2 linked regions of the Homo sapiens genome follow. The protein of the gene in region 1 interacts with the protein of each later gene in a pairwise test. Each region holds a gene or a part of one and is shown in the gene's direction. Other genes may lie near its edges.

Region 1 (3,944 bases):
GTATCCGCTCGGACGCCTCACTGACCCGAAGCACAGCCCAGCCGGGTGCCCCTGCCATCACAGCTGCTCTTTCCTTATAGCAGCGGGCGTGTTCTCATGTGCCCCGGGGTCCCTCACCCACTCATTTACTGGCAGCCTTCCCCAGTGGGGCGTAAGCCCCTGAGGACAGGGCCTCTTGCTGTCTGACTCCCCATCTGGCCCTCGCAGGCGCCCAGGGACACTTCCTCAGGCAGTGCTGGCTGAGCAGAAGCTCCTGGGGGGCTCCCAGTGCCACGCTGAGTGCCCCAAAGGCTGTGTTCCCATCTTGATCCCTGGAACCTGTGAGTGGGACCTCATTTGGGAATATGGCCTTAACTCCGGACGTGATGGAGTTAAGATAAAGTACTGGAGCAGGGCGAGCTCTCATCCCAGTGCCTGCTGTGTTTATAAGAAGAGATGGAGGCCGGGCACGGTGGCTCACGCCTGTAATCCCAGCACTTTGGGAGGCCGAGGCGGGTGGATCACGAGGTCAGGAGATCGAGACCATCCTGGCTAACACGGTGAAACCCCGTCTCTACTAAAAATACAAAAAATTAGCTGGGCGTGGTGGCGGGTGCCTGTAGTCCCAGCTACTCGAGAGGCTGAGGCAGGAGAATGGTGTGAACCCGGGAGGCGGAGCTTGCAGTGAGCGAGATCGGGCCACTGCACTCCAGCCTGGGTGACAGAGCGAGACTGTCTCAGAAAAAAAAAAAAGAGATGGTCCGGGCGTGGTGGCTCACGCCTGTAATCCCAGCACTTTTGGGAGGCCGAGGTGGGCAGATGATGAGGTCAGGAGTTTGAGACCAGCCTGGACAGCATAGTGAAACCCCATCCCTACTAAAAATATTAGCTGGGCATGGTGGCACAGCACCTGTAGTCCCAGCTACTTGGGAGGCTGAGGCAGGAGAATCGCTTGAACCTGGGAGGCGGAGTTGTGGTGAGCCGAGATCACGCCACTGCACTCCAGCCTGGGTGACAGAGTGAGACTGGATCTCAAAAAAAAAAAAAAGACATGGAGATACAGGAGGAGTCGTCGTGGAGATGGAGGCAGAGGCCAGAGCTATGCGGCCATGAGCCAAGGGCGCTGGGATCCCCCAGAAGCTGCTTGAGAGAGGCAGGAAGGCTCCTTCCCCGGAGCCTGCAGAGGGAGCGCGTTCCTGAGACACCTTGATCTCAGATTTCTGGCCTCCAGGACTGTTAGCAGATAAATATTTGTTGTGTTCTTTGTTTTGTTTTGAGACAGGGTCTGGGTCTCTCCCAGGCTGGAGTGCAGTGGTGTGATCATAGCTCACTGCAGCTTTAACTTCCTGGGTTCAAGCGATCCTCCTGCCTCAGCCTCCCGAGAAGCTGGGACCACAGGCACGCACCACCACGCTTGGCTAATTTTTGTAGTTTTTGTAGAGTTGGGGTCTCGCTAGGTTGCCAGGCTGATCTGGAACTCCTGGGCTCCAGCAGCCCTCCTGCCTCAGCCTCCAAAAGTGCTGAGATCACAGGTGGGAGCCCCCACACCTGGGCAGTTTCTGTTGTTCTAAGCCTCCCAGTCGGTGGTGGTTTCTCACAGCAGCCATGGGGAACGGAAGCGTCCCCAGGCCACAGCCTCCCCGCAGTGTGCGGACTCGGCCTGCTGAGCCTGCATGTTGGCGTCCCTGCCTGCCGGAGGGAATGATACTAAATGCAGCCTGCTGCAGCCGCACCCACACTAAACATGGAGGAGGGCTACGAAGAGTAGCAGGGCCCTGCATGAAGGGTGACACGTAAATTTAAAAAACAATTTCGGCCGGGCGCGGTGGCTCACGCCTGTTATCCCAGCACTTTGGGAGGCAGAGGTGGGCGGATTATTTGAGGTCAGGAGTTCAAAACCAGCCTGGCCAACATGGTGAAACCTCGTGTCTACTAAAAAGAAAAATCCAAAAATTAGCCGGGTGTGGTGGTGGGCGCCTGTAATCCCAGCTACTTGGGAGGCTGAGGCAGAAGAATCACTTGAGCTTGGGAGGCAGAGGCTGCAGTGAGCCGAGATCGCACCACTGCCCTCTAGCCTGGGAGACAGCGCGAGACTCCGTCTCAAAAAAAGAGTCATAAACTTAGTTCCTTAAAACAGTGAAATCAGTTATCTGACAGTTCTGGAGACCAGAAACGCTAACATCAAGCTGTAGGCCGGTTCCCGCCTTGCCCAGCGTCTAGAGGCGCCCCCATCCCTCCACTCAGGGCCCCTTTCTCCCCCTTCACAGCCTCAGCGCAGCCTCTTCCCGTTTCTCTCTGACTCCCACCCTCCCGTCTCCTCTCGTGAGGCTGCCACGAGGACCCTCTCCTGTCTCAGCGTCCTGCCCTCAATCCCAACTGCAGAGTCCCTTCTGCCATGAGAGGCAACCCAGCCTTGGGTCGAAGGGATGAGGTGGGGCCTCCTTCAAGAGACAAAGTCTGGTTCTGTCCGTGGGTTCTCTGTCCCTACAGAAAAGGAGAACAACTTCCCGCCACTGCCCAAGTTCATCCCTGTGAAGCCCTGCTTCTACCAGAACTTCTCCGACGAGATCCCAGTGGAGCACCAGGTCCTGGTGAAGAGGATCTACCGGCTGTGGATGTGTGAGTGCGCCTGGGGGCAGGAGGCGGGAAGCGGGAGGCAGGGCTCCCCGAGGGAGGGAGTGGCATTCAGGCAGGGGCAGCCCGTCGGGGGCCCACCGTCTACTGAAGCCGTCCTGGGCCTGGTGGTCCCTGCGGTGAACGAGGCTGGTGTCCAGGCCCCAGTGTCTTGGCTTGCACAGTTCATCCTCGACATGGGGTCACTGGGCTGGGGAGGCGGACAGCGGGTGCCCCATTGCTGGGCCCATGCTTTCCCACGGCCACACCCTCCCGTGCCTGCTCATCCGTCCTCCCTCTCTCTTCGCAGTTTACTGCGCCACCCTCGGCGTCAACCTCATTGCCTGCCTGGCCTGGTGGATCGGCGGAGGCTCGGGGACCAACTTCGGCCTGGCCTTCGTGTGGCTGCTCCTGTTCACGCCTTGCGGCTACGTGTGCTGGTTCCGGCCTGTCTACAAGGCCTTCCGGTGAGCAGAGCTGCCGGGGGCCGTCTGCACCCAGAGGGAACCAGGGCCCACTCTGCACCCCAGTCCCAGCCCAGCTGTGAGGAGCTGTCCCTTTCTCTGCCCAGTGTGAAAGACAGTTCACATCTGGGGGTGGCAAACTGTGGCCCACAAGCCAGAGCCAACTACTGTCTGTTTTGTTTTGCTTTCTAGTAATTTTGGCTGGGTGCAGTGGCTCAGGCCTATAATCCCAGCACTTTGGGAGGCCGAGGCAGGCGGATCACCTGAGGTCAGGAGTTCAAGACCAGCCTGGCCAACATGGTGAAACGCTGTCTCTACTATAGGTACAAAAATTAGCCAGGCGTGGTTGCGGGCGCCTATAATCCCAGCTACTCAGGAGGCTGAGGCAAGAGAATCGCTTGAACCCGGGAGGCAGAGGTTGCAGTGAGCCGAGATCTCGACACTGCTCTCCAGCCTGGGCGACAGAGTGAGACTCCATCTCAAAAAAAAAAAAAAAGGAATAAAATAGAGCCTCCGCTCTCACCATCTCTGACTGGCCCGTTCCTCTCTAGGCGCGTCTGGGAGAAGCCAGGGCTGTGGTAACCGTCGTGTTTTCTGTCCCTCCCCAGAGCCGACAGCTCCTTTAATTTCATGGCGTTTTTCTTCATCTTCGGAGCCCAGTTTGTCCTGACCGTCATCCAGGCGATTGGCTTCTCCGGCTGGGGCGCGTGGTAAGCCTCTCTCTGATGGGCGTGGTGGCTGTGATGTGGCTCAGCTGCCAGGTTGTGGGCCTGCTGGGAAGCCAGGCGGCCACCGGAGCGTGCTGGTCCGGGATTGTACGCGCTCTCCTAGGGAGGGGTCTGAGCTCACCCTGGCAGCGCCCGCGTCCTCGCCAGCGCCCGCGTCCTC
Region 2 (3,600 bases), on another chromosome or scaffold:
CCTCCCCAGTAGCTGGGACTATACTATAGGTGCACACCTTTATGCCTGGCTAATATTTTCACTTTTTTGTAGAGACAAGGTCTTGCTATGTTGCTCAGGCTGTTCTTTAACTCCTGGGCTCAAGCAATCCTTCCACCTCAGCCTCCCAAAATTCTGGGATGACAGGTGCGCACCACCGTGCCCAGCCTTATTTAACTTTTTTGTTGCATGTATATTCACGTGGGTCAAAAAACCATTTAAAGAGATTTGCAGTGAAAATCTGCTTTCTATCCACTAAGTTTCCCCAAACGCTGTTAGGCACTGTTGATAGTTGTTTATGTTTCTTTTCAGTTTATTTACACACGTAAGTCTCAATTTGCTCAATTGTAAAAGGAGGATAATAGTAATAACCAACTATATGTAAGATACTTAGAACAGTGTTTGGCAAACAGTGGTTGCCATGTAACTGTTCACTATTATTATCATTATTTGCACTTTTCCCTTTTTACACAAATGGTAATATGCTATATATACTTCTAATCTTTTCTCTTTTTCTTTCTTTCCTTACAAGAAAACCAAAGAAGCCATTTTCTTTTTTGAGACGGGGTCTCGCTCTGTCACCCAGGCTAGAGTGCAGTGGCATGATTATAGCTCACTGCAACCTTGAACTCCTGGGCAATCAAGCAATCCTCCTGCCTCAGCCTCCCTAGTAGCTGGGATTATAGGCATGTGCCACCCCACCAAGTTATTTTTTTTTTAACAACTTTTTTTTTTAAGAGATGGCGTCTTGCTTTGTTGCCCAGGCTGTTCTCCAACTCCTGGCTTCAAGTGATCTGCCCACCTCAGCCTCCCAAAGTGCTAGGATTACAAGCATGAGCCACCGCACCCAGCTGCTTTTTTTAATGAGGTCACTCCTCATGATTTCATAAAGAGCTTTCAAAGCATGGACATTGTACAGTTGCTTGACTTGTGTAGTATTGATGGGCATTTTCCCTCAATCTTCTGCCATTATAAACAAGGCCGGGCAGAGTGGCTCATGCCTGTAATCCCAGCACTTTGTGAGGCGAAGGCGGGCAGATCACCTGAGGTCAGGAGTTTGAGACCAGTCTGGCCAACATAGTGAAACCCCGTCTCTACTAAAAGTCTAAAAATTAGCTGGGCGTGGTGGCAGGTGCCTGTAATCCCAGCTACTCAGGAGGCTGAGGCAGGAGAATCTCTGGGACCTGGGAGGCGGAGGTTGTGGTGAGCTGAGATTGCGCCACTGCACACTCCAGCCTGAGCGATAAGAGCAAGGCTCCGTCTCAAAAAAAAAAAAAAAAAAAAAAAACATTACAGGCATGAGCCATTGTGCCCGGCTGGTCAGATGTTTCTTAAATTTTAGTCATTCCAGTAGATGTGAGTGATATCTCATTATGGTTTTAATTTGCTTTTCCTTAGTGACTAATGGAAGTTTGAACATCTTTCATATACTTATTGGCCATTTAGAAATCCTCTTTGTGAAGAACCTATTCAAGTCTTCTGCCTATTTTATATTGGATGATCTTTTTCTTTCTTTCTTTTTTTTTTTTTTTTTTGAGACAGGGTCTTACCCTGTTGTCCAGGCTGAGCACTGTGGTGCTATCATAGCTCACTGCAGCCTCAACCTCCTGGGCTCAAGACATCCTCCCACTGCAGCCTGGGACTGTAGGCACGTGCCACCACGTCCAGCTAATTTTTGTATGTTTTATAGAGTTGGGGGTCTCACTATATTGTTCAGACTGGTCTTGAACTCCTTTATGCAAGCCATCATCCCACCTCAGCCTCCCAAAGTGTTGGGATTACAGGCATGAGCCATCGTGCCCGGCGGTCTTTTTCTTTCTGATTCTCTGCTCACTCTTGTATTCACTCATCTGTTCACCTACATTCTCTCTCTCTCATTGGCTACTTCACTCACTCCATCATCTACACCTGCTTCCTTTTATACCACACACACTTCTTGAGTACCAATCACAGCCACACTGTTTTGTGTCAGGCTTTACACATATTACCTTGTTTTAGAGAAATAAACCACTAGAATCCAAACAGTTACCCCATTTCACGGATGAGGAAGCAGACGCATGGGAAGGTTATGAAGTCTGTCTTCTTGCAGGGACCCCCAGCTCTCACAAGTGTGTGTTCCTTTCACTGCCTTTATTCTTCATATCTCTCTCTTCTTTTCTTCAGGGAAAGAGTATGCCAAGGGAGACAGCCGATACATCCTGTAAGTGTTTGCCTCTGTCAATGGAGACTGGCATTGGTTTTCGGGGGGTGGTGAGTTGGGGAGCACTAATGGGCTAACCTGTAGGAAGAGCACACCGATACCAGTGTCCCCTCATGCTTTCTCCTGCAGGGGTGACAACTTCACAGTGTGCATGGAAACCATCACAGCTTGCCTGTGGGGACCACTCAGCCTGTGGGTGGTGATCGCCTTTCTCCGCCAGCATCCCCTCCGCTTCATTCTACAGCTTGTGGTCTCTGTGGGTAAGGAAAGGGCACTAGAGGGGCACTGGGCACTAGAGGGGTTGATGGGGGATCCACAGACACAGATGTATCCCTGTGGGTGGGATCTCTCAACGGTGCCCTTCCAGGGGTAAGTCAGACTGAATGACAAACCCCCTGAGGCTCTGGAAAGGTCATGCCCTTCTCTGAGCCTGCACTCTCAGGTGGGGAGGGTTCATTTTTCTTCCTCCTCCTCCTTCTCCATCACAAAGTCTCCTGTGAAGGTTACATGAGGTGGCCCAGGGTGGCAAGAAGCCCCTGGAACCTCCAGGATCAGGGCTCTGAGATCCCTTCATGTAAGATTCTGTCATATTTTTTTTAAAACAGGGTCTGGCTCTGTCACCCAGGCCAGAGTGCTATGGTGTGATCTCGGCTCACTGCAACCTCCACCTCCCAGACTCAAGCGATCTTCCTGCCTCAGTCTCCTGAGTAGCTGGGACTACAGGCATGTGCCACCGTGCCTGGCTAACTTTTGTATTTTTAGTAGAGATGGGGTTTCGCCATGTTGCCCAGGCTGGTCTCAAGCTCCTGAGCTCAAACAGTCCTCCTGGCTTGGCCTCCCGAAGTACTGGGATTACAGGTGTGAGCCACTGTGCCCGGCCTCAGTCATCTTGTGTTATTAAATTGTTAGCTTTCTTTAGTTCTAGCGATATGAGTTATCTTTAGTCCCAGAATCCTAAGCTGTCTTGGATTTGAGGATTTTGAACTTCCTTAAATCTGAAGGTGTGAGCTCTCCTGAGTTCTGAAATTCTCAGCTCTCTGGTGTCTGGAATCTCACTTTTCTGATTTCTCAGATTTTCAGCTCTGTGATTTCAGAATACTTAGCTCTGAGACCTTGAATGATGACTTGGAAAGTGCTTTGGAATAGAGAATTGGCGAAAGTGTCCCCTTCCTCACTGGGGCTTCTCCTTCCCCTCCTGCCACCCACAGGCCAGATCTATGGGGATGTGCTCTACTTCCTGACAGAGCACCGCGACGGATTCCAGCACGGAGAGCTGGGCCACCCTCTCTACTTCTGGTTTTACTTTGTCTTCATGAATGCCCTGTGGCTGGTGCTGCCTGGAGTCCTTGTGCTTGATGCTGTGAAGCACCTCACTCATGCCC

Evidence for each region.
Region 2: the proteins of SCAMP4 (region 1) and EBP interact in binary tests that used the Homo sapiens proteins (3 or more experiments, as listed by UniProt).

The regions. Positions count from the first base shown.
Region 1 is NC_000019.10:1,915,225-1,919,168, forward strand, and holds part of SCAMP4 (secretory carrier-associated membrane protein 4), read left to right. Parts: intron 1-2,469; coding exon 2,470-2,598; intron 2,599-2,902; coding exon 2,903-3,059; intron 3,060-3,664; coding exon 3,665-3,766; intron 3,767-3,944. UniProt on the Homo sapiens protein: Probably involved in membrane protein trafficking.
Region 2 is NC_000023.11:48,524,808-48,528,407, forward strand, and holds part of EBP (3-beta-hydroxysteroid-Delta(8),Delta(7)-isomerase), read left to right. Parts: intron 1-2,181; coding exon 2,182-2,218; intron 2,219-2,347; coding exon 2,348-2,478; intron 2,479-3,426; coding exon 3,427-3,600. UniProt on the Homo sapiens protein: Isomerase that catalyzes the conversion of Delta(8)-sterols to their corresponding Delta(7)-isomers a catalytic step in the postlanosterol biosynthesis of cholesterol.